Regions from separate parts of the Homo sapiens genome. Here all the other regions are linked to region 4. The links come from fine-mapping of genetic effects on plasma protein levels. A gene starts in region 4. Each other region holds a variant in brackets. All regions are shown on one strand. Distances are from middle to middle.

Region 1 (8,123 bases), 12 kb after region 4:
TAAAGTTGGCATCCATGCACAGAAATGCAGACTGTGTGCATTAAACAAGTAGTGTTCTAGAGTTGACTGATCCGTTGGAAAGTTTTGTAAATGTAAGAATTTCTGTGAGTAAACATAAGCAGGCCTGTCAGCAAGTCCAGTCAGGTTGAGATTTAATATAAAACACAAAAAGTCTCCAAAAAGTCTCCTGAATCCCAGCCTCAAATTCTGTTTGGGTTGATTTGGTTTTCTTTTGTAGATAAATCATGTGTGAGTCATAGAGAACTCCTTTAGGACTCTGTGATTACACACATGGGTATTGCATTTGGGTTGACAATGACATATTCTTGTAATAAAGGGTGAGTTGGCAGGAGACAGTTCCTGGGTACATGGATACCAGAACAGCAGTTCCAACCAGAAACCATCACTCTTCCAAAAGAGATCTGAGTAATTGCCACATACTTTTTAAAATAAATAAGCAAAAAGGAATCACCTCCCTGATCCACTCCAGAGACACTGCTTCAAGATTACCAGCTAGAGAGGATCCCTAGAAGAGAAGGAAGTTTTGGCTGCTCTCTTCCAGTTTTAAGTCTCCAGTGCTACTGACCAGGAGCTTGAATTTCATTTGGCTTTAAATTGTATGAGTCCTTAATCTGTCACCCCTGCTTGTCATAAATGATATTCTATTCTCTGCTATTCTTTCAGTAGAGAAAGAACTAAGTTTTTCTAAAATGTAAGTCTAGCTGGGAGATGATCACTCTTTATTTTTATTTTTATTTTAAGTTCTGGGGTACATGTGCAGGATGTGCAGTTTTGTTACAGGGTAAACGTGTGCCGCGAGATTTCTTATCTCTTTGTCTTTAGATATCTACTCTTTGGTGACTCATCTGCTACATGTATTATCTCAGACAATATTGTAACCTGGGATAATGACATGCCTTTTAATGAATGTAAGTAAAACAATCTCTTTATTGCACCCTATTTAATTCCTCTTGTCCCCTTCCAGAGGGAAATTGAGCATCTGCACACCAAAGTGAGTAGCCAGGAGGGTTTACACTTGGTTTGAGTAGCTCTAGGCACACAGCTATGACTTACCCATCTTCCTCATGGCCCCCAATCCTACCACACGTTCCTTTGTTTACTGTCCTTTGATTATAAGTTATTTCATAGTGAGTAAATGCTTACATCTAAAACATTCCAGGAGATTACACACTGCCAACTTTATTCCATGCAAAAAGTAAGCCACCCTAGGTCCCTTCTATAACAATTTATCTGTGGTCTGGGGCGGGGACTGGTGACCAGCTCATAGCTTTTCGGTTTTTATCAGCCAGTTCCATATATCTTTTGACCTTGCTACTTCCTATTTAGAATCATCTTTGAGATCAGGATACAGAATTTCAACAAAATAGGTAAATTGTAGGCTGAGTTGCAGTTTGGATTGCAAGAATGAAGAGAAAATTCTCAGAAAGTATAATATTCTCTCTTTCCCCACCTACTCCTTAAAAAGGTATTCCTTGTAAGTCACTCCCAGCCATCCCCCATGGGACTTTGACAGCAGCAGCAGGGAGAGGGGTTTGCTATGAAATCATCAGTGCCATATTGGATGTAATAGGGAAAAGCTGTTTGACCTCTTGGATGAGAAGTCAATGCATTGCACCAGCAAAGATAATCAAGTTGATGTCTGGAGCTCTGGAGCAACCCTCCTCTTCAGTGTATTACTCTTACTTGAATGCTCAATTATAGAAGTTGAAAATGGAGTTGTGGAATCTGGATTATGTTCATTTTTTTAAAATGATACATGATATTTAAGTGTAAGCTTGGTTTTACCCTGAAAGGCAGCAATGTAATATGGTGTCAACTAAACAGCAAACAGAATCCTCTACTGCCAAAGTGCTTCAGGGGTGAGTTGGGCTGAAACTTCAGGATCTAGAAATAAAACAAGGTTTTTCTGGGAAATAGATATATGGTACCTATGGAAAGAGCAGAAGGAAGATAGTATATGTGGTTGAGTTTTCTAGTTAAAGAGTTTTTTATTGTTATTGTTTGTTTTGTGTTTCTGTTTTTGTTTTTTTGAGATGGAGTCTCGCTCAGTCGCCCAGGCTGGAGTGCAATGGCGTGATCTTGGCTCACTGCAACCTCCACCTCCTGGGTTCAAGCGATTCTCCTGTCTCAGCCTCCCGAGTAGCTGGGATTACAGGCATCCAACATCATGCCTGGCTAATTTTTGTATTTTTGTAGAGATGGGGTTTCACCATGTTGACCAGGCTGGTCTTGAACTCCTGACCTCAGGTGATCCACCTGCCTCAGCCTCCCAAAGTGCTGGGATTACAGACGTGAACCACCACACCCTGCCTAGTTAAAGAGTTTAAAAGTAAACTTTGAAAGTAATATCTAAATGTTGCAGATGTAGGACTTTTTCTTCTTTTGTATTTTGGGGCAGTGCTAGATCTGTGTTATTGTAGGGGAAATTAAAAGATGCTTTTTTAAAAAAGCAGATAGCACCAAAGTCAATGATTAGAGATTTTTTCATACATATATATATATATAATTATCACATCTTATCCATAGGTGTGCTTTGAACATATATATGCCACTCTTCTCTGTCTTCTGGAATGCAGACCAAAGATGTTAAATTGATTCAGTTGAGTATATATTATACTGCAGATTCTATATGTATAAAGACAACAGTTCTCGAAAGTTACCCTTACTGAAACCAAGTATAGCACTGATGTGATGAAACAGTTTGGCTGTATCTTCTTATGTCAGTTTTCACTGAAGACCTCCTCTTGGAGCCAAAGGGAAGTTAACTGAAAGTTCTAGAGGTTGGCAATTTTCCCTTTATTCTGAGACTCCCTCAGAAAAGGCGTGCATAACAAAGTAAATGTAAACAATATCCTTCATGGTTATTAGGACAAGTAAATGAAGAATATGAGGCCATTATTCAAAACCTCTGTTCACTTCCTGTGGCTTTTTCAAAGTGTTCCAGCCTCAAGTCAGGACAAATCACCTGTACTGAGGCTCTAGCATCTTCAGCAGCAGGACCAAAAGTGGTCATCTCAGCCTGTACCCCCAGTTGTGTGTTTGAAGCAGCCATTGAATAATTAGTATGTTCCAGGTATTGTACTTTCTCTGTTCATGTACTTTTAGCACTGGATTCTCACTATACCTTATGAAGTAGTTTGCGTTATACTATAGACTAAGAAACTGAAGCTTAAAGAGAGTAAGACTTGCCTGAGGTCACACAGCTATTGAATGACCGTGGGGAGTTGAAACTAGGTCCACTGAGCTCAAATTTCCCTAATCCATGGTACCTCCCCACATGTAACTATCATGCCACTAATATGTTATTTTCATGTGCTGAATTTGCCTTTTGTTTCATTATTAAAATTGATTAGACTCAGAACTTTTGGATATATTCTTTTCATTATTATTGTTTGGTCAAGATGATTTATGTTGATCTGTTTGCTGAGGATCAAGAAAAAGGTAAGAATTTAGGAGTTTGGGAGTAAGCAGGGAATAAATAAACTATACATATTTCTAAGTCTGTTTCTGAAAAAGTTATGTGATCTATATTTGGATATTTTACCTACATTTGAATATTTTCTCACCATGATCAGTATGCCTACCAAGTTCCTTTTCTACTTTTCAGGGATTTCTTGTGGCTCTCCTCCGCCTATCCTAAATGGCCGGATTAGTTATTATTCTACCCCCATTGCTGTTGGTACCGTGATAAGGTACAGTTGTTCAGGTACCTTCCGCCTCATTGGAGAAAAAAGTCTATTATGCATAACTAAAGACAAAGTGGATGGAACCTGGGATAAACCTGCTCCTAAATGTGAATATTTCAATAAATATTCTTCTTGCCCTGAGCCCATAGTACCAGGAGGATACAAAATTAGAGGCTCTACACCCTACAGACATGGTGATTCTGTGACATTTGCCTGTAAAACCAACTTCTCCATGAACGGAAACAAGTCTGTTTGGTGTCAAGCAAATAATATGTGGGGGCCGACACGACTACCAACCTGTGTAAGTGGTGAGTATGAAAAGAAAGCTGGGTTGGGAGGTTGGGGTCTTGCCTTTCTGTGCAGACCACGTTTTGTACCCTCCTGAAGGACAAACAGTGTGAACATGTAATGATGAGGGTGGAAGAAGGAAACAAGGGAAAAGGTGAAAGTTATGGCTTCTTCGTGGAGGCATATAACTGCTCGTTCAAAAAACATCAATTGAGCAAAGGAGTTTAAAGTACATGGAAAAATGTAATTAAACACACCTAATAATTGAGTAGGGTAAGTTTTGCAAGGATGGGGTCAGAGTTTGTTGGGGATGTGGGAATGGGGTGGTTTTCAACTGTATATCTGTGTTACTGTTAAAATGAGAAGAACGGTGGGATCTTATAGCAAAAATACACCCAATGGATTTGAAATTAATGTATAAGTAGCTGCTAACACAGTCTAGCACAGGTGATATCCTGCTCTCTGTGGTCTCTGTAAACATGTTTTGAAGTTATCCACTATTTCCCCAAGTCATCTTCTGAGCCATCACATTTCAAATAAATGCCTTTGAAAATAGGGACCTACTGTAAATTATTCATTCCTTCTCTTTTGGTTTGGTTTATGTTGCTGCTGAAATATAAATCTGAATTTGAATTCCACAATTACAAGAAATGGCAATATTTGACAAAAATTATACTATCAAATTAGGTATTTTCTTAATAAAGAACAATATTGACAAATTTTAAGCAGATTAAAGAGCTGACAAAACTGTTAAATTAGTATAAAATGGGATTCTGTTTATTGATTGATTGATTGATAAATAGCCTTGGAGGAAGGAGATCTTAACGATAGTTACAAAGGGCAATGGCTGCTGAAAACAGTTAAGCCTTTGTAACAATTTAGACAGACATATATGTATGGACATGGAAGGATATCGTATACATGTCGCTAAGTAGAGGAAGTAAGGCATAGAATATGTATTAGTTGTACACACACACATAATATAGGTGTATATATGTATCATGCATAGGATCCCAATAAACTATATTGCCAATATCTACCAGGATAGCCCTTGAAATGATAGCATGCTACTTTTGGAACAGAGAATAAGCTTAAGGATAGGGTGAGAATATAGGTGAAAATTGACTTTTTTTGGTAATTGAAATTTTTCACAAGGCAAATGTAATTCATATAGTGTAACTAAAAATGAAAAATAAGGTACTATTTATGGCTATTTGTGGCATAAAATGGATACACTTAAACCACACCTGTTTGATCTTTAAAAGACTAGGTTGAAAGTTAATACCAACTGGCTACCATAGATCATGTGTCATTTATTTAAATCCATATCCTAAGTCAGCATCTCGATCAAGCTTGTCCAACTCGCTACCCGTGGACAGCATGTGGCCCAGGATGGCTTTGAATGTGGCCCAACAGAAATTCATAAACTTTCTTAAACCATTATGAGATTTTTTTTTTGCAATTTTTTTAGCTTATCAGCTATCATTAGTGTTAGCGTATATTATGTGTGGCCCAAGACAATTTTTCTTCTTCCAATGTTGCCCAGGGAAGCCAAAAGATTGGACCCCCTTGATTCTAGATTGTGAAGGATGCATCATCTGACGGCTTTTTTTTCCTGGTATGTGTGTGTAAAGTTTTCCCTCTCGAGTGTCCAGCACTTCCTATGATCCACAATGGACATCACACAAGTGAGAATGTTGGCTCCATTGCTC[C/T]AGGATTGTCTGTGACTTACAGCTGTGAATCTGGTTACTTGCTTGTTGGAGAAAAGATCATTAACTGTTTGTCTTCGGGAAAATGGAGTGCTGTCCCCCCCACATGTGAAGGTACCCTAAATTTACAATCTATTTTAAGAATCTGGGCTGTTCTGTTATTTGCCATGCATTTCTCATCTTTGGTTTGTTTTTTAGAGGCACGCTGTAAATCTCTAGGACGATTTCCCAATGGGAAGGTAAAGGAGCCTCCAATTCTCCGGGTTGGTGTAACTGCAAACTTTTTCTGTGATGAAGGGTGAGTGTCAGGATTATTTATGAGATTTAATTCATTTGTCTTGTGTGTGCGTGGTGTGGACTGTGAAACCTGCAGAAGTCTCCTCTGTGAGGATCTCTGGGCAGTCTGGGGTAGGGTTGTGAGAGGTAATGCTGATAAAAGGAACAGATGCACACTGATTGAAATGAACTTGTCTTGAATTGTAAGTAGAGGCTGCTGTTCTTCAGCACAAACTGCCTAATAGTTCTGAATGACAACCTTCTGTCTCCAGGTATCGACTGCAAGGCCCACCTTCTAGTCGGTGTGTAATTGCTGGACAGGGAGTTGCTTGGACCAAAATGCCAGTATGTGAAGGTAGGCTAGGCAACTATGGTCTGACAGCACTGCATTCTCAGCTTAACTAAAAGCTTTTGGTTCAGTCATTACCTTACAGACTCTTACTGAACACAGAACTCCTAGAGATCTTTAAGGATATGTGCTTCACCAAAGCATCCTTATTTTTTGTTTCCTCAAGTAAAATGGGGTTCCTAGGCTTTCCCTCCTCTGAAAGCTATGCAGACCTTCTAAGTAGGTAGACCATATGCATAAAGAAAATAGTGTATTTGGTAAAAGAAATCAAAGGATCAGCAGAGTACATATACTCAGGAATGAAGCTTGAGAATCAATCTTCTAAATTATGTTGCTTTAGCTGCCTTGACTGATTCATTATAGACTCGGATATCACTGTCCTAGGATAGTGGTATCAAGCAGCATCTGGGGCATTCTTTGTTTTCAATACACCTATGATCTTGTCATTTCTTTCTGCAATTCCCCTAGAAATTTTTTGCCCATCACCTCCCCCTATTCTCAATGGAAGACATATAGGCAACTCACTAGCAAATGTCTCATATGGAAGCATAGTCACTTACACTTGTGACCCGGACCCAGAGGAAGGAGTGAACTTCATCCTTATTGGAGAGAGCACTCTCCGTTGTACAGTTGATAGTCAGAAGACTGGGACCTGGAGTGGCCCTGCCCCACGCTGTGAACTTTCTACTTCTGCGGTTCAGTGTCCACATCCCCAGATCCTAAGAGGCCGAATGGTATCTGGGCAGAAAGATCGATATACCTATAACGACACTGTGATATTTGCTTGCATGTTTGGCTTCACCTTGAAGGGCAGCAAGCAAATCCGATGCAATGCCCAAGGCACATGGGAGCCATCTGCACCAGTCTGTGAAAAGGGTGAGTGTTCCGGTACTCAGAAAAGGTGCTTCTGATTCGTTTCTGAAAAATTAGAAGAAGGGGTTGTGGGCTTTAGGTAGGGCCTTGTCCAGTTTATACTTCCCTCAAATCTACTACATCTAATCAATATAAATTTTGTAGAGGGCATTCTTATCACTAGCCCCCCACCATTGTTTTATTTTGTGGGAATATGCTTGGAAAAAATGTTAGGAATCACTAAGTTTCTCATTTCTATAGGGGAAAAAATGAGGAGAAAAATGCTTGTTTGTCTTAATAGTGACTTCTTAAAAGAGAAGTCATTCAAGCCCTCATTCCTAGGGATATATCAGAATCTCCCATAAAAAACATACAAGATGATTCCTTATGAAGGGAAGAGGCAGGAGAGGAGTTGCAGAACCCAGTGGAAAGTGAACAACATCTGCAGCAGCCTCTGTGCAGAAAACAACAACAACAACAACAACAAAAGATTGGGAAACTGTGATCTAAAATTACCCAAAGCTGGTCTGCAACATATGTTCTGTATCATACAGCTGACGCCAGAGTGGAATTATAGCATGAATATCAATTTCTTTGGCTCAGTTTCTTTCTGTGGTTGTTTACTTAAGCAGTTATGTTTTGTTTTTGTCCTTTCATTTAGAATGCCAGGCCCCTCCTAACATCCTCAATGGGCAAAAGGAAGATAGACACATGGTCCGCTTTGACCCTGGAACATCTATAAAATATAGCTGTAACCCTGGCTATGTGCTGGTGGGAGAAGAATCCATACAGTGTACCTCTGAGGGGGTGTGGACACCCCCTGTACCCCAATGCAAAGGTGCCAGGCCTCAAATGTAGACATTTTGTTAACTTTAAGATTGCCTTGAATTAAATTCTCATCCTAGTCTCTTTTCTTAGTGGCAGCGTGTGAAGCTACAGGAA
Region 2 (8,123 bases), 27 kb after region 4:
ATAGAAACTGAAGCAAAAAACACAAATATAATCTGGCTTAAATTACCCAGAGGTTATTGAGATAGAGGGCTGACAGTAAAAGATTGTGTCTAGGATATAGTCTTATCCTATTTCAGTGCAGCTTTCCTTACTGAGAGTGAAACAGGTTGGTTTTATAAATCTTTCTATTAAGGGAAATTTCTGCTTTCTTGGTAAAAGGCCAAAATATGACTGTGCTTGAATTAGATTTCTTTAATTTCAGAGGTAAACTGTAGCTCACCAGCAGATATGGATGGAATCCAGAAAGGGCTGGAACCAAGGAAAATGTATCAGTATGGAGCTGTTGTAACTCTGGAGTGTGAAGATGGGTATATGCTGGAAGGCAGTCCCCAGAGCCAGTGCCAATCGGATCACCAATGGAACCCTCCCCTGGCGGTTTGCAGATCCCGTAAGTACCAAGGGCTTCACCGCCGCTTGTAACTGGCTAACGGAGAGAAGAGAGTGAGAGTTTCCCTCAGCGTGGAGAGTCCTGGGTTTTAAATTGACATAGGTTTGTGACCAGTTGTATAATTACAGAGGAACTTGAAGTCAGTGGTCTATTCTAGAAAAAGCACAGCTTGGCCAGGTCCGTGACTTCTGCCTGTGATACCAGAATTTTGAGAGGCTGAGGCAGGAGGATTGCTTGAGCCTAGGAGTTTAAAACCAGTCTGGGCAATGTAGTGAGACCTGGTCTCTACCAAAAAAAAAATAATAATAATAACCAGGCATGGAGGTGTGCACCTGTGGCCCCAGCTACTCGGGTAGCTGAGATAGGAGGATCACTTCAGCCCAGGAGGTTGAAGCTGCAGTGAACCATGATTGCACCACCGCACTCTAGCCTGGGCAACAGAGTAAGACCCTATCAAAAAAAAAAAAAAAAAAAAAAGAAAGAAAGAAATTAAATAAAATAAAAAAGAAAAAGGAAAAGAAAAAACACAACTTTCTTAGGATGGGGAAAGTGAAGAAAAGAAAATAGAAACACTAATTTAAAAGGAACAAAAATGTGAAACAAGCAACCTGAAATTTTGAAAGGAGTTGCTGCATAGACCACCCTACGTGCTGAATCTGAGTTAATAAGTGCTTACAATTTGACAGGGAACTCCAGAAATAGGTTAAATAAATAGTTGTTACAGTTAATATTTGCATTCTAACCTGAGAAATCTCTGATTATAAAGTTGAGTATATTGTTTTTGTCATTGGTGGACTCCCCCAATCTACTTAGAGTGAAAAAAAAAGGCCAGTGAGTTGCTACATAAGAAACAAGTGGATATAACTCAAGGTTCCAATACATCTTTTTTATCTGTTGTTTTTTGTTTTTGTTTTTGTTTTTGTTTTTGTTTTAAATAGACACAAGGTCTCACTATGTTGCCCAGGTTGGTCTCAAACTCCTGAGCTCAAGTGATCTTCCCACCTTGGCCTCTCAAAGTGCTAGGATTACAGGCATGTGCCACTGTGCCTGGCCCCAGTACATCTTTTAAATCGACTTGGAAGGGAGCTAGAGTGTTGATTTCTGGGACATTACCATGAAACGTGGGGCTACATTGAATTATGACACTATACTGATAATCATTTTCATGATTTTGTACTATTTTTAGGTTCACTTGCTCCTGTCCTTTGTGGTAAGTCTTCTTAAATACTTGAAGAAAAGCTCTTATAATATTTTTTAAAAATATGTAATGCTAGAGGTCCTATATCCTATCTGATGATATATTTAACTCATAGGGAATGTTCTCTTTTTGGTGTTTTAAAGATACTTCAATGTACATGTCACATTACAAAATGTCACTTTGGCATAGAGTTGGATAAATTATTTGAACAGCCAGCTCTTTCTTCTTTTTAAATTGATATTTTAGTTTTTATTAACTGTTGGTGTTTGGCTTGATTTGGTCTATTGAAATAGGCAGGCTTCTTCTGCTGTAGCAAAATACATTTCACAGCTGAGAGTTAAATGTTATGCAAAATTATAAGAACCTGGTGTCCTGTGCACCTAATTTCTATTCTTGAGATTTCTCTCTTGTCACCTCAGTGACAAGATTGTTACTAATAAAACTAAAAGGAACAGAAAAACTCAATGAAAAGTTGACTGGAACCTTGTGGTCATGTGCTTGGTGCTTTAGATTAAAGGTGGACTGGATCAAATCAGAAAAACCTTAAGCTCAACTATGATTATTCAGGAATTCAGCATTTATGTCCAAGAAGAGTTAAGTATGAGTCACATAACATTTTCCCCACCACTAGCAATAGGCCCTGCAATCAGTCAGAACAATGTAGGTGATCGTCTTCTGGCATTTGATACTTGCTGGATTTTTCTTCTAGGTATTGCTGCAGGTTTGATACTTCTTACCTTCTTGATTGTCATTACCTTATACGTGATATCAAAACACAGAG[C/A]ACGGTAAGTTCAAAGGCGAATACTTGATTGACCAACATGCACAAGTGGTTTCGGCTTCTTGTCTGAAACTAAACACAGAAGCACAAGTTATGTGAAATAAATACTGCAATGTGATAACTAAATGAAGTATCTCGTGCTATACAAAAGGAAGCCCTTTCTGTAGGACTTAAGAGATATCAAACACTTAGCTTATTTTATTGAATGATGTTTATTCAGATAGTATATTGTAAACAAATCTAGAGAATAGGAAAAAAATCCCAGTGGGAACGACTGCAAATACTTTGGTGTATTCGTATCTGATCTTTTTCGTATATTTTTTCTCTCTTTAAACTGAAATTTTGTCATTTTCATCTTCTGTCTTGATTTTTTTCATTTAGACTCATGTTTATGTTTTTATGCTTTAAGTCATGTTTTCAGTTACTAAATAGCATATTATTCTATTCTGTGTATTTATATATGTATTTATGTGTTTTAAGTTCCTTCCAAATTTACTTTGATAATATATAAAGATAGGAGTAGCACCTCTGGCTAAACCTTTTTTCATACCCACTTATTTCCTTAGAATAGATTTCTAGAATTACTAAAGATAAGTGCATGAGCATTTAATATACTTGATAACTATTGTCAGATGACTTGCCAGGAAGTTTGTTCTTAGTAATATTTAATGTACTGGGATATGTCGTGTTTCTCAACCCCTTTTCCTGCTTCATTGATTTGCCTGTTCCATTACAAACCACTTTGTGTTTAATTAATACCTTTATGTTATTATATCTGGTAGGGCAAGAATTCACACTACAATTTTATAGGACTTTCCTCTCTATTCTCTTCTGTTTGTTCCTATAGGTGATTTTTAGAATCATTTATAATTTCAAAAAAAAATTGTGATTACATTTAAGTCTATAGATAAATTTGTGAGAAATTGGCATCTTTTCTGTAATGTCTTCTCATTCAGAAATATACTAGGTCTTTCCATTTGATCAAGTAATCTTTTCTCTCCCTTAGTCATTTTCATGATTACTTAATATTAACTATATTACTACGTTTCTATGTTTTGGTATGTTATGTTTTCTTATCCAGAAATTAGATATATTTTTGCATATTATTTTTAATTATTTTTAAACATCTTAATCCATTAGGAATTTATTTTATGGTATGGTAGTTGAAGTAAACCTACTTGTACTTTTTTTCCCTATATATTCAATTTTTTCAAAACCTATTTTGAGTAAACCATCCCTTCACCATTGGTCATAGTTTTCTTTATCAGATAAAGCACGCCTATTCAATTCTTGTGTACACTGGGGCTTATGTCAGAGATATCTGACATAAATATGCAAGATAGATTATATTCCACTGATCGGCCTGTCTCTATGAGCCAGAGCTACTCTATTAATAAATGTAGCTTTTTCCGAGATGTGTTCCCCCTCTTCAAAACTATTTTGAAATTTTCTTCTATTTATTTTTGCAGATAGGCTATAGAATTATTTGCACCACGACTACACCTCCCATACCCTAGAAAAATAAAATAAAATCTTAGATCATTGATAGGAAGTGCCTTAAACCTATATATTTATTTGGGAAGAACTGACCTCTTCATGATATTCACTATTTCCTTCCAGAAATACCAGATGACTAATTATTCAGATGTTTTGTTATATTTTAGTTAAAATTTAATAGATTACCTTATATAAGCTACATAGCCATAAAAGTATCTTATTTTTATTGCTTTATAAATAGAATCATTTTTGGTTATGTCTTATAAGTAATTGCAAATGATATCTAGGAAAGTCTATCTTTATACAGTCATTAATTCTAATAGCTTTTCAGTGAGTTACCCAATCATCTAAGTAGAAAACTATATTTTCTACCAATTATTATTATTGGTAGAAATAATTTCTACCTCATATCTACCGATTATACATTTTCATTTATTTGTTTTTGTCTCATTTTACTGAGAAGAATTTTAAGGAAAATCTTCAGTAATATTAGGGAATATTGGCATATTTTAACCTTTATTTTTAATATAAAGCCTCTAGTGTTTTATCACTAAAAATGATACTGCATCCTTTTTTCTTTTCTATATTACATAAAGTGTATTTATAGTCACAAAAGTTGTTTTTCCCTATTTAAAATCACTGAAAAATCTTGTTTCCCTTCTTTAAGCATATTTTTATATCACTATAAATATTTGCATAAATTTTTAAAATACAAAAGTAAATATGCTTGTTGTAGCAAATTAGTTTATAAAGATACTGAATAGTCTCTTCCACTGAACAACTGCTGGTGCCTTCAAGTCCAACATATTAAGTTGATGGATGTCAGCAATTTGCTGTAGATACTTTCATATGTTGCTCTATCTAGTATATACATGCATGGCTTTTAAAACATTTGAGCAGTAATGTTAGAGAAATAGAAGTCATGCGAAAAGAGGAATGACCACGTCCATCCATTCTTTTCTTATACAACAATGGCTGAGTGCCTACTATGCCTTAGCACTATACTAGGCTAGAATCACAAAGCCTAGTAGCATATGGCCTCTGTCATCAAGGAGGTCACAGCCTGGTAAAGGAGGACAAGCATGTCGCTAAACAAGTACCATAAAATAACGTCGCCATGGTGGATTATATGATATTTGGTGAGGATGCAAAGCAAATGGTCAATATTTGGGAGTTTTAATCAGGAAAAGTTTCAGCGTGGAAGAGATGTTTCAGGTGAGCCTCAAGAGAGTGTAGACAAGAAGAGAAAGGCATTCCAGACAGAAAGAGCAGTTTGAATAAAGGCCCAGAGGCTTGGCTTTCCATCATGTGTTGTGAGAACTACATAACCCATTTGAAATGGCTGGGAAATAGTGTGTGTGTGATGGTGATTGAAGGCGAAAGTGGCATAGCTTTAGGTGGAGACATGCCATTAAAGAAAAAAAAAAAAAACCCTGACACGTAAATCTTGTGGAAGCTACAGAATACTAATATGTGCAAAGGATACATTTTTAACAAAGCATACCGTCAGGTGTTGGCCTCGGATGTTATGTGTGCATAGGTTCGTGAGTCTTTGTACATGCTAGTGTTAGGGCGGATAATCCAATGAAGTCTTACCAACTCTCAGGTAGCTCCGAGTGGGGAGATGACCAAGTCATGCCACCTAAAACATGTCACCAAAAAGCTCCAGCAAAATTTCTTTCACGTGCCAAGTCCCCTGCATCTATCATTTACCCTGCCACCAGTGCCATCTGATGCCATGGCTCAGTTATGTAATTCCTAGAATAGGCTCAGACATGAAGGGGTTGCACTGAAACTATGTACTGAGGGTATCTACGAACCTGGGCAGTTTGTTCTAGGCTGGAGGCGGGAGGGTGAGGGCTGCCTATGGGGTTCTGGCTGTCCTGTACAGTTAGCGTGTACTTAGAGTGTAGAGTTTACCAGAGTGTGTACCACACAACCCTGCTTTCATGAATGACTTCAGAAAAAAAGGGTGTTCTATGGCAAATAAGATTTGGACATACTGCACACTGTTTTTTTTTCTTGTGGAGAATCACAAGGACCATGAGAATATTTAATAAGAGGTTTTTTGCTATCAAGAGGACAGGATTTCCAGGACTTGGTGACATGCTGGATGTGGGGAGAAGGAGGCACATAGAATGGCTCACATGAAGGCGATGAGGTGGACCCCCTGACTCACTAAAAGAGGAGAGGGGCAGGATTTGTGGGGGAAGATGAGGAGTTCGGTTCTGACCTGGTACTTTGAGGTACTCATGATTTAGGGCTTGGGAGAAGGGTCTGGACTCGGGTGGGTGACACTTAAATCACAATGAAAGCTGTGGAACCAAAAAGAACAGAACAGATAAAAATTGGGATGAGAACAGCCCTCAGAAGAACAGTAATGTTCAAAAGGCAGAAAGTGAAGGAAGAGAGGCAGGGGGAAAACTAGCAGAGAGTAGCGTCACAGAATTCAAGGAGAAAAGGGTCTCAAAAAAAATTAGGGATGTCATTTGCAGGGCCTTCCTCATAGGAAGTCACAAGATAATTTCAGCCAAGAGGCATTAGAAATGTAAATACATAGAAAATACAGTCTCTATCTCTTTCCTTCATGCTACTGAGTTTGCTATCAGAGCACTGCATGTGTATAAAAATTTGCAAATTTGGGGAATGCTTACAAGTGCAAATAATTTATAATATTCCAGTCTAATTATTGTTTATTAATATGATTATATCATGTACTATACTTAAGTGCCTCAACTGATATGAAGCAAACATACCTGTTTAACCAGATTCCTAGTTGCCATTCATTTATTTCCATTTGCTAACCCACTTCAATTGATTTTCCAATAATTGATAAAGACACTTGAATGGCCTGAAATGCTTTTTTAAATGAGATGAGTAATCATTTAAAAATGAATGTCTAGTGACAATATTAAATATTTTGAAAAGCCATCTAAACACTTGAAAGACACTATGCTATTCTTTTCTAGTCATCTAAGATATTGTAACAAAGCTTAAATCTCACATTGACCTAAAAATTACTGTTTTATAATCTTCTTAACATATCTCCTGTACACGGAACTCTTCAATATTCTAGTGAGTGACATGCTGTCAGTGTCTTTAGCAGTATTCTTTCTTCCCCAGTAATTTTGTATTATGTTATTTTAGAGCTTTACATGGTAGTATAATCACATTTTATTGTCTTTTAGTAATTCTGGCAAAGTGGTTTTAGAAGCACAATGAAATATGTGTACTTTCAAAGAAGGAAAGTAAAAACATTCTCTTCAAACTCGTTTAAAGCTTTTAAGTCAGACTAGAACATTGAGTCCCAAAAGGGTAAAGTTATGATCTAAAATAAGAACTTATTTTTGCTTCTTTTCTTCAATTTGGAAGTTGTAGTTGTTAGTCATTAAGCGTCCTGGATCCTAGGGTAAAGCTGCTTAGTGTCAGCCTCTGACTTGAACACTTACAAGCCTAGATCATTCATTTTTTATGTGCCTTTCCAAAAAATGGAGTTACAGTGTTTACACTTCATAGGATAAAAACAATAAAAATGAAATCATCACAGAAAACCAAACACCGTATGTTCTCACTTGTAAATGAAAGTTGAACAATGAGAACATGTGGGCACAGGGAGGGAAACATCATACACTGGGACCTTTCACAGGGTTGGGGGTTAGGGGAGGGATAGTATTAGGAGAAATACCTAATGTAGATGACGGGTTGTTGGGTGCAGCAAACCACCGTGGCACATGTATACCTATGTAACAAACCTGCACATTCTGCACATGTATCCCAGAACTTAAAGTATAATTTAAAAAAATGAAATCATCCACAAAAGTACTTACCATGTGTTGGGAATTATGGAAAGCAAACAACTGCTACATTGAAACATGGTCAATGAGTAAAGATATTACATTTTTCTTTCTTCTTCTGTTTAGCAATTATTATACAGATACAAGCCAGAAAGAAGCTTTTCATTTAGAAGCACGAGAAGTATATTCTGTTGATCCATACAACCCAGCCAGCTGATCAGAAGACAAACTGGTGGTATGTAATGAAATGGAATATTATTAATTTACATATAAAATTTCCTTCAACTTGTATTTATCAATAAGCGTAGCATTCACGGTGTATATACATGCTTCTTACTATTGCACAAGTCTTCAGTAATCATGCATAGCAATTGTTCATTTACCTACTTCATTTTGCCAACTAATGTTCCAATTTTTTAATCCATTCAT
Region 3 (4,846 bases), 19 kb after region 4:
ACTTGTACAACTCCTCTGAAACTCTAGCCTTTCTTCTGTAAAGTTGGCATAAGACTACAGACTAGGAGGTCCAGAGAATGTAAATAAAAAGTAAAAAGGACCAGGCACAGTGGCTCACGCCTATAATCCCAGCACTTCAGGAGGCTGAGGGCGGCAGATCACAAGGTCAGGAGATCAAGACCATCCTGGCTAACATGGTAAAACCCCATCTCTACTAAAAATACAAAAAATTAGCTGTGTGTGGTGGCATGCATCTGTGGTCCTAACTACTTGGGAGACTGAGGCAGGAGAATCACTTGAACCCGGGAGGCGGAGATTGCAGTGAGCTGAGATCACACCACTGCACTCCAGCCTAGGCAACAGCGTGAGACTCCATCTCAAAAAAAAAAGTAAAAAGAAACGTAGAAAATTTAAAAAACACTACAGACTTCAAATTATTCAAATTAAATTGTACTATTGCTACTTTCTGGATGAGGAAACTGCCTATCACAAAGTAGGTGCTCATTCAACAATAAGTTTTCTCAGCTAGCCATATAAACCATCATATCACCTCAGCACAGAGTAACCAAGAAAGCATAATTCTATTACCCTGTGTCTTTTATTCTCCTATTGCCTAATTAAAAAGAATTCTTCTTTTAATTAGCAATTTACTACTGGGCCTAACTAACTCCTAATGTGATGTTGATCAACCACATTCACTTTGAATAAAGATTTTCTTTCCTATGAAATGTGTTTAAATTGCATTTTACATACTTAATGAGCTTTCACACAACTCACATCATGAAAATGTACCCATACCGTCCAGGAAACAACAGATTCATAACCAGCTTCATTTGGTGGTTCTTTGTTCTTTGGTGTCTAATACAGGAACTCAATTCTACAGTATCTTTTCATCTCTCTAGAAATCACCTGCCCACCACCCCCTGTTATCTACAATGGGGCACACACCGGGAGTTCCTTAGAAGATTTTCCATATGGAACCACGGTCACTTACACATGTAACCCTGGGCCAGAAAGAGGAGTGGAATTCAGCCTCATTGGAGAGAGCACCATCCGTTGTACAAGCAATGATCAAGAAAGAGGCACCTGGAGTGGCCCTGCTCCCCTGTGTAAACTTTCCCTCCTTGCTGTCCAGTGCTCACATGTCCATATTGCAAATGGATACAAGATATCTGGCAAGGAAGCCCCATATTTCTACAATGACACTGTGACATTCAAGTGTTATAGTGGATTTACTTTGAAGGGCAGTAGTCAGATTCGTTGCAAAGCTGATAACACCTGGGATCCTGAAATACCAGTTTGTGAAAAAGGTAAAAACCCAATAAGGGGGAAAAAAGGAGAGATTTACTTAATTATTCTTGTTTATTATCTCCCACCCAAAACTGCATCATGGAAAGAGGCAAGAGGGGCACAGATTACTTTCTGTTTCTTCCATCCTATAATAGATGTTCTCTGTGTTGTGTGTGTGCATGCAAATGCCCCCTTGGATCTGGGATCTATTCAGGGTAGATAATGAGAGAGCCTTTTTAAAGAGCAAACAGCATTCAGTAGTGAATTTGAGCTTCATGATCTTTGGCATCAGAGTTTCAGACTGTCTGTCCAATGTTGTACACTTAGTGTTCTTGAGTAGAAATTCCTCTGTGTTGGTATTTATGTAGGGAGTTTTTCTCTTCAGGCTGCCAGTCACCTCCTGGGCTCCACCATGGTCGTCATACAGGTGGAAATACGGTCTTCTTTGTCTCTGGGATGACTGTAGACTACACTTGTGACCCTGGCTATTTGCTTGTGGGAAACAAATCCATTCACTGTATGCCTTCAGGAAATTGGAGTCCTTCTGCCCCACGGTGTGAAGGTACTTTAAGTTCCAGAGTTGTCCTTCTCTTTGATATGAGACATCTATAAATACTGTAATTCCATCCTTGCTTCTCCAGAAACATGCCAGCATGTGAGACAGAGTCTTCAAGAACTTCCAGCTGGTTCACGTGTGGAGCTAGTTAATACGTCCTGCCAAGATGGGTGAGTATGAAGTGGTCTATTCTGAGAAAAGGTCTCAACCTTGTTTTGTGGATTAACTTGACCTTCAACTTGTCTTGGTGGCATCCTTTAGAGGCTCCTCATTGTCACAGGCATGGAGAATATGAGGTTCCAATGGCCTAAATAGCAACTCTGACTCTTCAGTCGTCTCTTGACATGGAAAGGGCTTTGCTTAACTCAAAAGTAGTTTTTTTACTTGGAGTAAAAAAAAGTAGTTTTTTACTAGAATTTCAACTCCTCTCTGCCAAAGTTCTTATTTAGAAGTCCCTTTTTGCATGCAGTTTGAAGAGATATGATATTGGGAACAGGAAATGCATTATAATCTGTCTCTCTGTAGGTACCAGTTGACTGGACATGCTTATCAGATGTGTCAAGATGCTGAAAATGGAATTTG[G/A]TTCAAAAAGATTCCACTTTGTAAAGGTAAGTTAGAAAAAATAAAAGCCTGACAATGGTAATGGAGGATTAGAGAGGGCAGGCCACTGAAGAATTAGTCTACTGCTGCTTCAGCAGTCTTAGGCGTCTCCCTCATTGGAGGTTAGATAAGAAAAATCTTATGGTGTTGGTCAGTATTGACACTGAGAAACAACATTGTCAAGTAGGAACTGTTTTTCATGCATCTGCTAATTTTGCTAACAATAACAAAATATATAGCCCATATTCCTAGGTCATGGGAACATAGCTGTATTTCTTTCTTCCTTCACACTTTACTCTATTTTCTGAATTTTTATGGAGTATATAGTACTCCTATAATCACATTTAATAAAGCTGTTTTTAAAAAAAGCATAATCCATATTCCAAAATTTAAGTTATTTTCTAGTTATGTGAAATATATGCAGTTGCATATTGTCATTTGTACCTGAATGAAGACCGCTCACCTTGAGGTACTAGCTGAAGTAGAACTCCCTAAATCTCTTCTGCAGTTATTCACTGTCACCCTCCACCAGTGATTGTCAATGGGAAGCACACAGGCATGATGGCAGAAAACTTTCTATATGGAAATGAAGTCTCTTATGAATGTGACCAAGGATTCTATCTCCTGGGAGAGAAAAAATTGCAGTGCAGAAGTGATTCTAAAGGACATGGATCTTGGAGCGGGCCTTCCCCACAGTGCTTACGATCTCCTCCTGTGACTCGCTGCCCTAATCCAGAAGTCAAACATGGGTACAAGCTCAATAAAACACATTCTGCATATTCCCACAATGACATAGTGTATGTTGACTGCAATCCTGGCTTCATCATGAATGGTAGTCGCGTGATTAGGTGTCATACTGATAACACATGGGTGCCAGGTGTGCCAACTTGTATCAAAAAAGGTAAGATACTTGGAAGGGATAAGTTATGGGATGTTGTACAGAATAAAGAAAAGAGGTTTTGAATCTGCACTTGACATTCTGCCTAAAGAAAAGCATCTAAGAGCTAAGGCAGTTATATTGTTTTACAAGATATTTGCCTTTTCCTATCTTCTCACTTGATTGTTTGTTTTCTCTTTCCTTTCTCAGTATATTGAGCAATAAATAGTACATGAAAGGATAATGGCTAACTTCCAAATTGATAGCATCTCCAAAAATTGTTATTGTTATGACTTTAGTGTAAGAAAAATGCACATACATTTTTGGCAAATGTTTGGCAGTAATATTGCTAATTATTTGATATTTAAGGCTATGTTGCCAGCCAGAAAGAGAACTTTGGGTGTTCTGGAGAATTAATTGGCCCTCCAACCCATTGAATTGTCTTTCTTGTAATTGTAGTTATCATTTGGCAGCCTTATTCCTGTCCATGACTATCTACAGCAGAGGCTGTTTGGCAACGGTTGTCTTTGACCAGCACAGTAATCTTAAGTGAAACCCATCTTCAGTTTAAGATAAATAGTGAGCTTGCGAGCCACAAGACCCCCTTTGCTTCCCAGCAAGGCACCAGTAACTTGAGCTGAGCAGTGGCTGCCACTTTTAGAAGGACAGGGGCTCTCTGACTTGTCGTATCTGGTGGCTTCACTTCCTAGCTCTCGTAGACATTTGAAGGTGTAACCATGTCTGCTATTTAAAGGGAAAGGAAAAGAAAACTGTTGGCTGATGGATTACCATTGTGAACTGTATCCATTAATGTTTCATTATCTTATTTTTTAACACTTTTCTTCAAATCATATTGGCTATCAGTAGGAAATGCAGATCTCCATCCAGTGTTGCTGGTCTGGGTGGAATGAATGAATGTTTTTGGATACCAGTTAGTTGGCTTGTTGCTTCTGGCCTTCCTGTATCGCTATCACCCAGAGATAGTGCAGGCTATGTGTTCCTCTGTGCTGAGTTAAAGACCCTTTCTTATTGGTGTCTAAGCCTTCATAGGGTGTCCACCTCCGCCTAAGACCCCTAACGGGAACCATACTGGTGGAAACATAGCTCGATTTTCTCCTGGAATGTCAATCCTGTACAGCTGTGACCAAGGCTACCTGCTGGTGGGAGAGGCACTCCTTCTTTGCACACATGAGGGAACCTGGAGCCAACCTGCCCCTCATTGTAAAGGTGCTTTGTCTATTTTTTATTCTTATTTTTATATCAAATTTGTGCCAAATAGATATATTCAGTTGGGTACTTTCAACTTAAAATAGCCAAAGAAATGAATTAACTGTCTGATTACATTAAAGGCTTTAATTAGATTAATACAATCATTAAATATCTCAAAATAAGAAAAAATGTCTCAGGCTGTAGTCTATCTGGTGAATGACCACTTATGTAGTCATTTACACATAGAAAGTTGGAGTTATGTCTGTAAATTAAACAACCAAAGCACAGATTGTATTTACACACTGTAGTTACAG
Region 4 (8,123 bases):
ACTGAAGACATGCTTCTAACAGCAGAAAAATAAATATTCACAAAGTTACTCTTTAGAGCATTAAAAACAACCAAACTGTCCATACATAGGGAGATGGTTGAATAAACTATGGCATATCCACACAGTGAAGTATTGCATGCAACTGTAAAAATGAATGAGGAATATTTGAATTTGTAGGAAATAGTGGATTCCAGCATATTTGTTAAGTTAAAAAAGAAATGTGCAAAAGAATACCTATAGCATGCTTTTAAAATGTAATAAAAAAGGAGAACTAAGAAGACAAATGTGTAGCAGCTCATTTGAGCAAAACTAAGGACAAACCAGAAACTACTGAAATTGAGTACCTATGGTGGAGAGGATAGAGGTGATGGAGAGAAGTGACATTTCCCTTTTATTGTGTCTTTTTATATCAATCTGACATTTGGGACTACGTTAATGTTTTATTTAAGCAAAAAAAAATCAAAAAGATTGAGGGGAAACTAAAATAGAATACAAAGAGAAACAAATTAACAGTATTTTGAATGAATAACAATCACACTGAAGAGGGGGAATAATCTGAGTAACTTTGGAACACAACAATGCTGTTTTTATATTTTCGGGCTATAAACAAAATAAAACTTTAAAAACGAGTAGATTTGATTTCCATCATAGTATAGAAATAGCAATTTTAAACTTCTTTCTGTGTATTCTAGGATTAAGCAAATAAGTAAATATATTGTGGATCTAGGTGTCTCACTGTTGAAGAAGGGAGTTACACATGCAGAAAGAGGGAAGGACAGAATGAACTCTATGCTAACGGACTGAAATTGGAAGAATCACTGTGAATTCATGACATATATAAATATAGATATGGGAATGGATATACATATATATATATAATACATATCCTTGCTCTGTCTGCTGAGAGGGTGCGGAAACAATGATACTCCAATAAAAATGAACACACTTAGCATCCAATTCTGGCATCTAAATGCCATTCTCTGCCAGAAAGAACCAGCATTCCTTGGAGAAACAGCAAATTCCAGTGTCAGGTCTAGAGGTGAGTCTGGAGCATTTTTTTTTGTGTGTGTGCCAGAAAGTAAGGAAGTGCTCAAAGAACAATAAGAACAAGTCAAAATGACATAGGAACTATTTTGAGGGCTCCCACTGGCCCGATCAGGGAGAATTTAAGCATCAAAATAAATAATGGTAGCCATGAATTATGACCCATTGAGTAAATAAATAAAATTCATATTGATATAGTTTATGCTGATATAGATAAATGAATAAATAAATAGAGAAGGGAAAACTTTTATTTACAGTAAAATGCCAACAGATGAATATAGAAGTAATTATTAAATTAGGAAAAAACACCCTTTGACAACCATCATAGTAAAAATTGATTCAAGAAAGGATCATCAATAGACGCTAAAATTTGTGGGTAAAAATTTGATGAAAAAATGAGGAATTTACATAGTTTTAAAGTATCTCCCTATAAAATACTTATTAATTACAAAGGGAAAAATACTGAGTCTACACTAAGAAACATGGCAGGCACCATCTTAACTAAGTGATCAAAGTTACCACCACCAGTAATAGGACAAATAGACAACATATGCCTCCCCGTAAGGATAAGACATCCTTTCTGGTATTCCTGTCAAATAATTAGATTCAATAACCTGAATCTATCATGAAGAAATGATAGACAAATCCAAATTGTGGGGTGTGATCCTGTCTCCTGACATTACCATCCACGTATACTGCCCTCCTACACTGAAAAGGGCTGATCTGTACAATCAATTGGATATTCTGGAGTTAACATATTGTGATTTCTGAGGACAGGTCACAAAGGACATTATGGCTTCTTCTTTCTTGTTCTCAGAGACGCTAGCTGGCATGTCACGAGGACACTCAACACACAAGCAGCGAGCCCTATGGCAAAATCCACGTGGTGAAGAATGAAGCTTCCAGCCAAAGGCTGGTAAGTGAGCCATCTTAGATGTGGATTCGCCTATCCCAGTTAACCCTTCAGATGACTGCACCTCCAGCTGGTGTCTTAACTGCAATCTCCTGAGCGATCCCAAGCCAGAACCACCTGACCGACCCACAGAAACTGTGAGATCATAAATGTTTATTCTTGCTTTACACCACTACCTTCAGGGTAATTTGTTATTATAATAGATAACGGACTTAAAAGTCATTCTCCAAAAATAATTGTGGTGTATTCGTCAAAAATGTAAAGGTCATGCAATACCAAAAATGCTGAGGACATTTTTCCAGAATAAAGAACTGGGGGTGGGGGGAAGGCATAATGATCAAACACAATACATGATCCTGAAATGATTCTGGACCAGGAAAAACAAAGGTTGGTTTCTATTGTTGTTATTGTTTTTACCATAACACAGGTTATTGAGATGATTGTCAAAATTTAAATACAGATGGTAGCTTATAGTCTTGTGTCAATGTTAAGTTCTTATTTTTGATCATTGCACTCTAGTTATGGAACAGAAAGTCCTTAGTGAACCATTTAGAATAGGAATAAATGCTAGATGGTTCCAAAGTAATAATTATATAATTATAATTATATAATCACATATATGTACATATATGTCTATAGAGAAAGAATAGAGAATGGTAAAGAAAATACAGCAAAATGTTAACATGCAGAGAATCTGGGTGACAAGTATATGGGAATTCTCTGCAGTACTCTTGAAACTTTTCTGTAGAGATTACTTCAAAATAAAGAACAGAGCAGAAGTGGCTGCTGTTCCTAAATTCCCTAAGTAAACTTACACTGCTTTTTCAAACTGGGAGATGAATCCACTAATAGGTTTTGAAATGAGTTTGGTGGATTTCTAATAAGAATAGGATAGCCTAGCCTAGTCTAGCATAACACAGCATGGCACAGAGGACGAACATTGTAGATTACTAAGGGTGAGTACTAACTTGTGAAAGTTTTGTTTAAGTTCTAGTAAGAGAAACAAGTGAGTGTAGTGGGTTGCGTGGTCAAAAAAGTGGGGAAGCCACCGCAACGAGGGGTGAGTCTGAGCCAAAGAGTGGCTCAGAGCTCCCCGCCCACCTCGTGCCGGGCCGTCCCTCCCGCTTGTCCCACCCTCACCGGCGCCGCGTCAGCCCCCAGGCCGCCTGCAGGTGTGCGCTCAGAACTAGCACGTGTGCCGGACACTATTTAAGGGCCCGCCTCTCCTGGCTCACAGCTGCTTGCTGCTCCAGCCTTGCCCTCCCAGAGCTGCCGGACGCTCGCGGGTCTCGGAACGCATCCCGCCGCGGGGGCTTCGGCCGTGGCATGGGCGCCGCGGGCCTGCTCGGGGTTTTCTTGGCTCTCGTCGCACCGGGGGTCCTCGGTGAGCTGGGAGGGGGAGCACGGAGGTGGGGACGCGTCCCGGGCAGGGAAAGTTTCTGTGCCGCGATGCAAAGCAGGGGGCCAAAAGCGAGACGGTGGGGGCAGTGCTCGACGCGTGTCCGCCTCCCGCTAGCTTTGAGGGACCACTGCAATAAACCGCCTGGTCCTGATTGTCCCCACTGGCCCCTCCGGGAGCTGGGACCTCCAGAATTGGAGGCTGCGCCACAGAGGGGCGCTGTCTGGTCGGCCCGGTGTGGCTGGCGGCGTGCGGGTGCTCGCGGTCTCCTGCCGGGCTCCCCGCCCCCAGGATTCTGCAGGTGCTCATCGCTCTCTGGCCGGCGGTCAGCGCTACCGCTCGCCACGGGAAACCTACCCACTGCATGAGGCACCAGCTAGCCACGTGAGGCTGTTTCTGTACACCCGAACCGCGCTCTTGCCCAGCAAAAGCGGCAGAACCTCGGCTCCCTTCCCTAAATAAGAGTAAGACCTGGTTCCCAAGCATGGGTCTCAGATTTTCTGAACTCTAATGTGATATTGGTAGAGATCCTAAACATTAACCATCCGTAGTTATTTTTGAGACATGGATTAAAACTATTGTTTTCTTCTTGTTATTAACCTACTGTAATGGTGTGGACGTCCGCAAAGGTCTCATTCACCGTTTATTATATCTTTTTTTCCTCCAGATTGGCTTGATTTTAAAGAAAGATTATAATTAAGATTAGCGTCTCTTGGCTACAGGATGGGTCTAAGTTTCTAATTATCTCCACGGTACCGTGCATTCCTAGTTTATAAGACGTTTACTGTGTGCAGACCTCAATAACTGGGTGACTTTTGGCAAGTCATTTAGCTCCCTGATCTTCAGTTTCTTCATCTGTAAAATGAAACTAGTGATTAACTGGCCTTCCACCTCACTGAGCTGCCCTGAGCACAGATGAAACTAAGCAAAGAAAGTTGGATGTTAGTCGTTACTACTAAATATCAGTAATAAGCCTCCTGTACAGACTTGATTTTATGGAGCCAGCATTTAAGCTAACAAGCTGGGTGTCCAATTGTTTCTATGGACATCCAGCTTATTGAGGTGTCTGGAATACAGCACATATTAGTTTATTACAACTTTTTGCTTTCCTGACATTTTACTGTCTCCTGACCCTTAAACCTTTCTCCAGACCATTATCTTCATCTCTTTTCTTTTTCTGCATATTAACTCCCTTTGAACAAATGTATATTCACACTTTTTCTAAGAGCAGAGTACGTCCCTGACTTCTCACCTATTTCTAAATTTCAAAGAGGATATTATCAACTGAAAATCAAATTCTTCACCAGTCCTGCCAATTCAGGGCCACAGCAGCAGCATCATGTAGGTCACTTAACTGGAGCCCCATGAAATACCAGGTCTACCTATCAGCCATTCAAGCTACTGTGCTTCTGTTGTTTGTCCATTTCTCATTTTTGTACCAGTATTCCCATCCTAAGCATTATAATTACCTGTGTAACAACCTCATCTCTTTTAAGAGATTTTGGTTCTTATGATTGGAAAGGTTAAAGAGTGACCTATAGGTCACTTTCCAATTATGAAAACAAAAAATTAAGAAATATATATATTTTCATTATTTCACTCCATTGTTCAAAAATCTAAAAGGCCTCCAGTGGAAGAAAATCTGGTGTCTTCAGCCTTTCTAGCCCTTTGGAATGGGATCTCACCGAAGCTCACACCCCCTGATTTCTCCAGCTGCCTGTCTTGTATGCGCTGCTCATGGTCTTCCCCACCTGTCTCCCATGGCTCATGCTTTGCCCACTCTCCACTGCTAACTTTTACTGCTACTGCATGCTCTCCACACATCATCTCTTGGCCAGTTCCTGCACTTGAGTGTGCTTAATAAAATACTAAAGTACCTTTATAAAATGTAGGTTCCTGGTTCCACCTCCCCCTCCAGAGGTTCATAGGTTTGGAGTTAGCACAGGAAAGCTGAGGTTTAACAATCACTCTAGAAGATTCTGCAACAAGTATCTATAGGGCACACTGCTATAAGCAAAGTCAATGGAAGCAAATTTCCTTTTTAGTGTTTTCCTATTTTTCCTTTTGTCTATTTGCATAAACAGTTTCAAATTTCCTACACTTCTAGATTTTACTCAAGCCTTCAGTGGCCACCTAACTTTATCCTATGCTGAGAAAACAAAACCATGAAACAAGAATGCTCCCATTTTCTAATCGGCTACAAACCTACCAACTTACAAACTTACCTCCATCTAGAATCAGATTTTGTTCTCCACTGCAGAAAACCTGCTGAGGCCTTCCCGTCACATTAGAATAAAACCCATACCCCTTATTCTCCAGTCTGAGGCCTTCTGCCTCTCCCTGAAATTCTCTGTACCCCACTCACTCTCTCTGCCCCAGCCACACTGGCCTTCTCTTTATTCTTTGAGCACAATTGCACTAGGTATTCTCTCTTTTGAAATGCTCTTCCTACAAATTATTCTTTGCCTGTCTCCTTGACATTCAAGGCTCAGCCCTCTGTTGTGCTTCTCTGACTCTTGTCTGAAGTATCCATATTCCAGGGTACTCTCCAATACAAAACTGTGTTCTATTTTCTACAGACCACCTATCACCATCTAAAACCTTCTTCCTTATTTATGTACCTGTTTGTTGTTTGTTCCCTCACTGGAATACAAGTTCCATGAGTGCAAGACCTTAATCTGCCTTATTTCCTGATTTGAGTTCCTATCAATAGCCTGTAATTTGGAATTCAATAAATATGAATTGAAATCTTGGTATGTTTCCTCCTATAACAATGAAAGAAGTATCCATTCTGCTGACAAATTCAGCTCCTTTTCCTGTATTCATGATCATGTTCCATACCCTCTTGCCTTTGCAAGGACTTTACTTCTGCAGATATCTCCTACCTTGCATCATCAATGTACCTCTTTCTGTATGATCATCCCCACCAGCATTTAAGTATACCCCAGGAAATCCTTTATGGACCTTCTCATGACCCACTGGAACTCCATTTTCCTGTCCCTCTTCTTGTTCTTCTCAGCAAAACTTTTCATTGACTACTTACTCAAATTTCGTTATCTCCTTCTCCACTTCAGACAGGCTTCTTCCCCACAGTCTCCTGAAGCTGTTTCTTGCAATGTCGCTACTGACCCTTATGCTGATAAATCCAATGGTCATTTTTCTATGTTAATCTTTCTCAGTCTTTCAGCAAAAACTGATGACTTCCTTTACCTTGAAACCATTATCATTCTCATCTTCCAAACCAAGACACTCTTACCTGTTTTTTCCATACTTCCCTGTTGTCTCTTAGTCTTTTTTGTTCTATCTCTAAATATTAGAGGGTCTTGGGGCTCAGCCCTGAGCCTCTTCTTTCTTCATTTCTTCTTCCTAAAAAACCTCAACTCATCTTGTCTCATGGCTTTGAATACTATTTATATGTTGATGACTCATATTTATTATCTATAGTTCTGTCCTCTCTCCTGAGCTGCAAACTGCCTACTTGGCATCTTGATGTGGATGCCTAGTGTGTTAGATATACCAAGTCTGAATGGAAATGATTCTGAACACAATTCCCTACCTCAAGGCCACAACACACACACACACACACACACACACACACACACACACACTCCTTTTTCAGGCTTTCCATCCTCAGAACAGGGTAATTCTATCAATTGTGTAGCCCAAGTCAGAAGTCTAGAAGTCAGGAATCCTCCCATTTCCTCAGCCCCACATGTAAAACAACAAAAAATCTTGCCAATTCTATTTCTAAAATATATCCACTGCTCAATCCTTTGCCAAGCTTCATTTTTTTTTTTTTGGCCCTAAACTGTACTCTTTGCTTCTAAAAGTAAGCAGTTCGATCCACTCTCTACCCAATTGCCAGAATATTCCTTTAAAAATGTAAGTCAGGCCTTGTGATTCTCCTGCTTGAACTCTCCAATGACTTCTATTCAGGATAATATTCACATATCTGTGGTCTAAAAAGCCCTTCATGATCCCTCCTGCTGAGTTTTCTGACTTGATCGTGGACCATTCTGCTTTGCTCATTGCATCCCAGCCACACTTGCCTTCTGTCTGTCCCTGGAGCATACCAAATCCATTCCTCCTGTTAGGCCTCTGCCTAAAATACTTGTACCCAGCAATTTGCCTGGCTGCTTCCTTCTTCCTTCTTGTCCTTCAGTCACAACTTAAATGTTGCCTTTTCACAGGCCTTCCTTAACCATCATAACTGAAGTTGCATGCCACCCTGTCCCTTCTCCTTCCAGTGCATTACATTGTGACATATCACTCTATTTCATATTTCATGTTCAGCACCTTCTTATTTATTTCCTGGTATCTATTTACAGTCTGTCTCTTTCTGTTGGATTATAAATTCTATGAGGGTGGGAACCTTGTCTCTGATGTTCACAGATACATCTCCTGTGCTTAGGACTGAACTTTGGTTAATATGCATAACTGTTGTTAAACTAAATAACAAACAGGGAAAGACCCTAAAAAAAAAAGATATTTGTTTGGGAATAGAACATTGCAATGGGAATATGTGTGTGATTATGAATTGTGTGTATATTCAAGGAAGTAAAAGAAGACAAAGGTTTTTAAAGGAAAAATATGAGGATTACATAATTGTTTTAGAATAATTATCCTTGGCTACAAAGACCAATAACAAGGATGATGCCAGTTTGAGGTTATACAGGCAGATGCCGGAAGGATGTTCTTGTAGGGTTGCAGTGGCTTTTGTGCACGGTTGTGGTTTTTCAGTCTTTTATGATAGTTTGGGTTAACAGG

Which allele goes with the higher level. Alleles are on the strand shown, and positions count from the first base shown. The strength of an association depends on the size of the effect and on how common the allele is.
As copies of T replace C in region 1, the plasma level of the protein whose gene starts at base 3,193 in region 4 goes down (moderate association).
In carriers of allele A in region 2, the plasma level of the protein whose gene starts at base 3,193 in region 4 tends to be lower than with C alone (moderate association).
In carriers of allele A in region 3, the plasma level of the protein whose gene starts at base 3,193 in region 4 tends to be lower than with G alone (moderate association).

What was found. PIP is the posterior inclusion probability: the model's chance that the variant is causal. The UK Biobank Pharma Proteomics Project read protein levels with antibody pairs (Olink). The fine-mapping took linkage between variants from a reference panel, not from the people measured, so its PIPs are less certain.
Region 1: its variant is fine-mapped to the plasma level of the CR2 protein (UK Biobank, PIP above 0.99). The variant lies in the coding sequence of CR2. If it changes the protein, the assay may bind it differently, which can mimic a change of level.
Region 2: its variant is fine-mapped to the plasma level of the CR2 protein (UK Biobank, PIP above 0.99). The variant lies in the coding sequence of CR2. If it changes the protein, the assay may bind it differently, which can mimic a change of level.
Region 3: its variant is fine-mapped to the plasma level of the CR2 protein (UK Biobank, PIP above 0.99). The variant lies in the coding sequence of CR2. If it changes the protein, the assay may bind it differently, which can mimic a change of level.

What each region holds. Positions count from the first base shown.
Region 1 is chr1:207,462,898-207,471,020 of GRCh38, forward strand. It overlaps CR2 (complement C3d receptor 2), which reads left to right. Exons shown (of 20, transcript NM_001006658.3): 2 at 3,629-4,015; 3 at 5,630-5,818; 4 at 5,903-6,002; 5 at 6,253-6,335; 6 at 6,798-7,205; 7 at 7,843-8,019; 8 at 8,100-8,123. Among named protein-coding and RNA genes, the nearest start is that of CR2, 13 kb to the left of the region's middle. RefSeq lists an enhancer at 6,380-7,579. The variant C/T (reference allele first, on the strand shown) is at 5,708.
Region 2 is chr1:207,477,644-207,485,766 of GRCh38, forward strand. CR2 (complement C3d receptor 2) reads left to right here. Exons shown (of 20, transcript NM_001006658.3): 16 at 242-427; 17 at 1,614-1,637; 18 at 2,335-2,410; 19 at 7,821-7,929. The coding sequence ends at 7,911. Among named protein-coding and RNA genes, the nearest start is that of CR1, 14 kb to the right of the region's middle. The variant C/A (reference allele first, on the strand shown) is at 2,407.
Region 3 is chr1:207,471,870-207,476,715 of GRCh38, forward strand. CR2 (complement C3d receptor 2) reads left to right here. Exons shown (of 20, transcript NM_001006658.3): 10 at 903-1,310; 11 at 1,676-1,852; 12 at 1,932-2,016; 13 at 2,372-2,454; 14 at 2,955-3,347; 15 at 4,365-4,550. Among named protein-coding and RNA genes, the nearest start is that of CR2, 20 kb to the left of the region's middle. The variant G/A (reference allele first, on the strand shown) is at 2,429.
Region 4 is chr1:207,451,136-207,459,258 of GRCh38, forward strand. CR2 (complement C3d receptor 2) reads left to right here and starts at 3,193. Exons shown (of 20, transcript NM_001006658.3): 1 at 3,193-3,341. The coding sequence starts at 3,284. RefSeq lists silencers at 3,032-3,261, 3,642-3,751.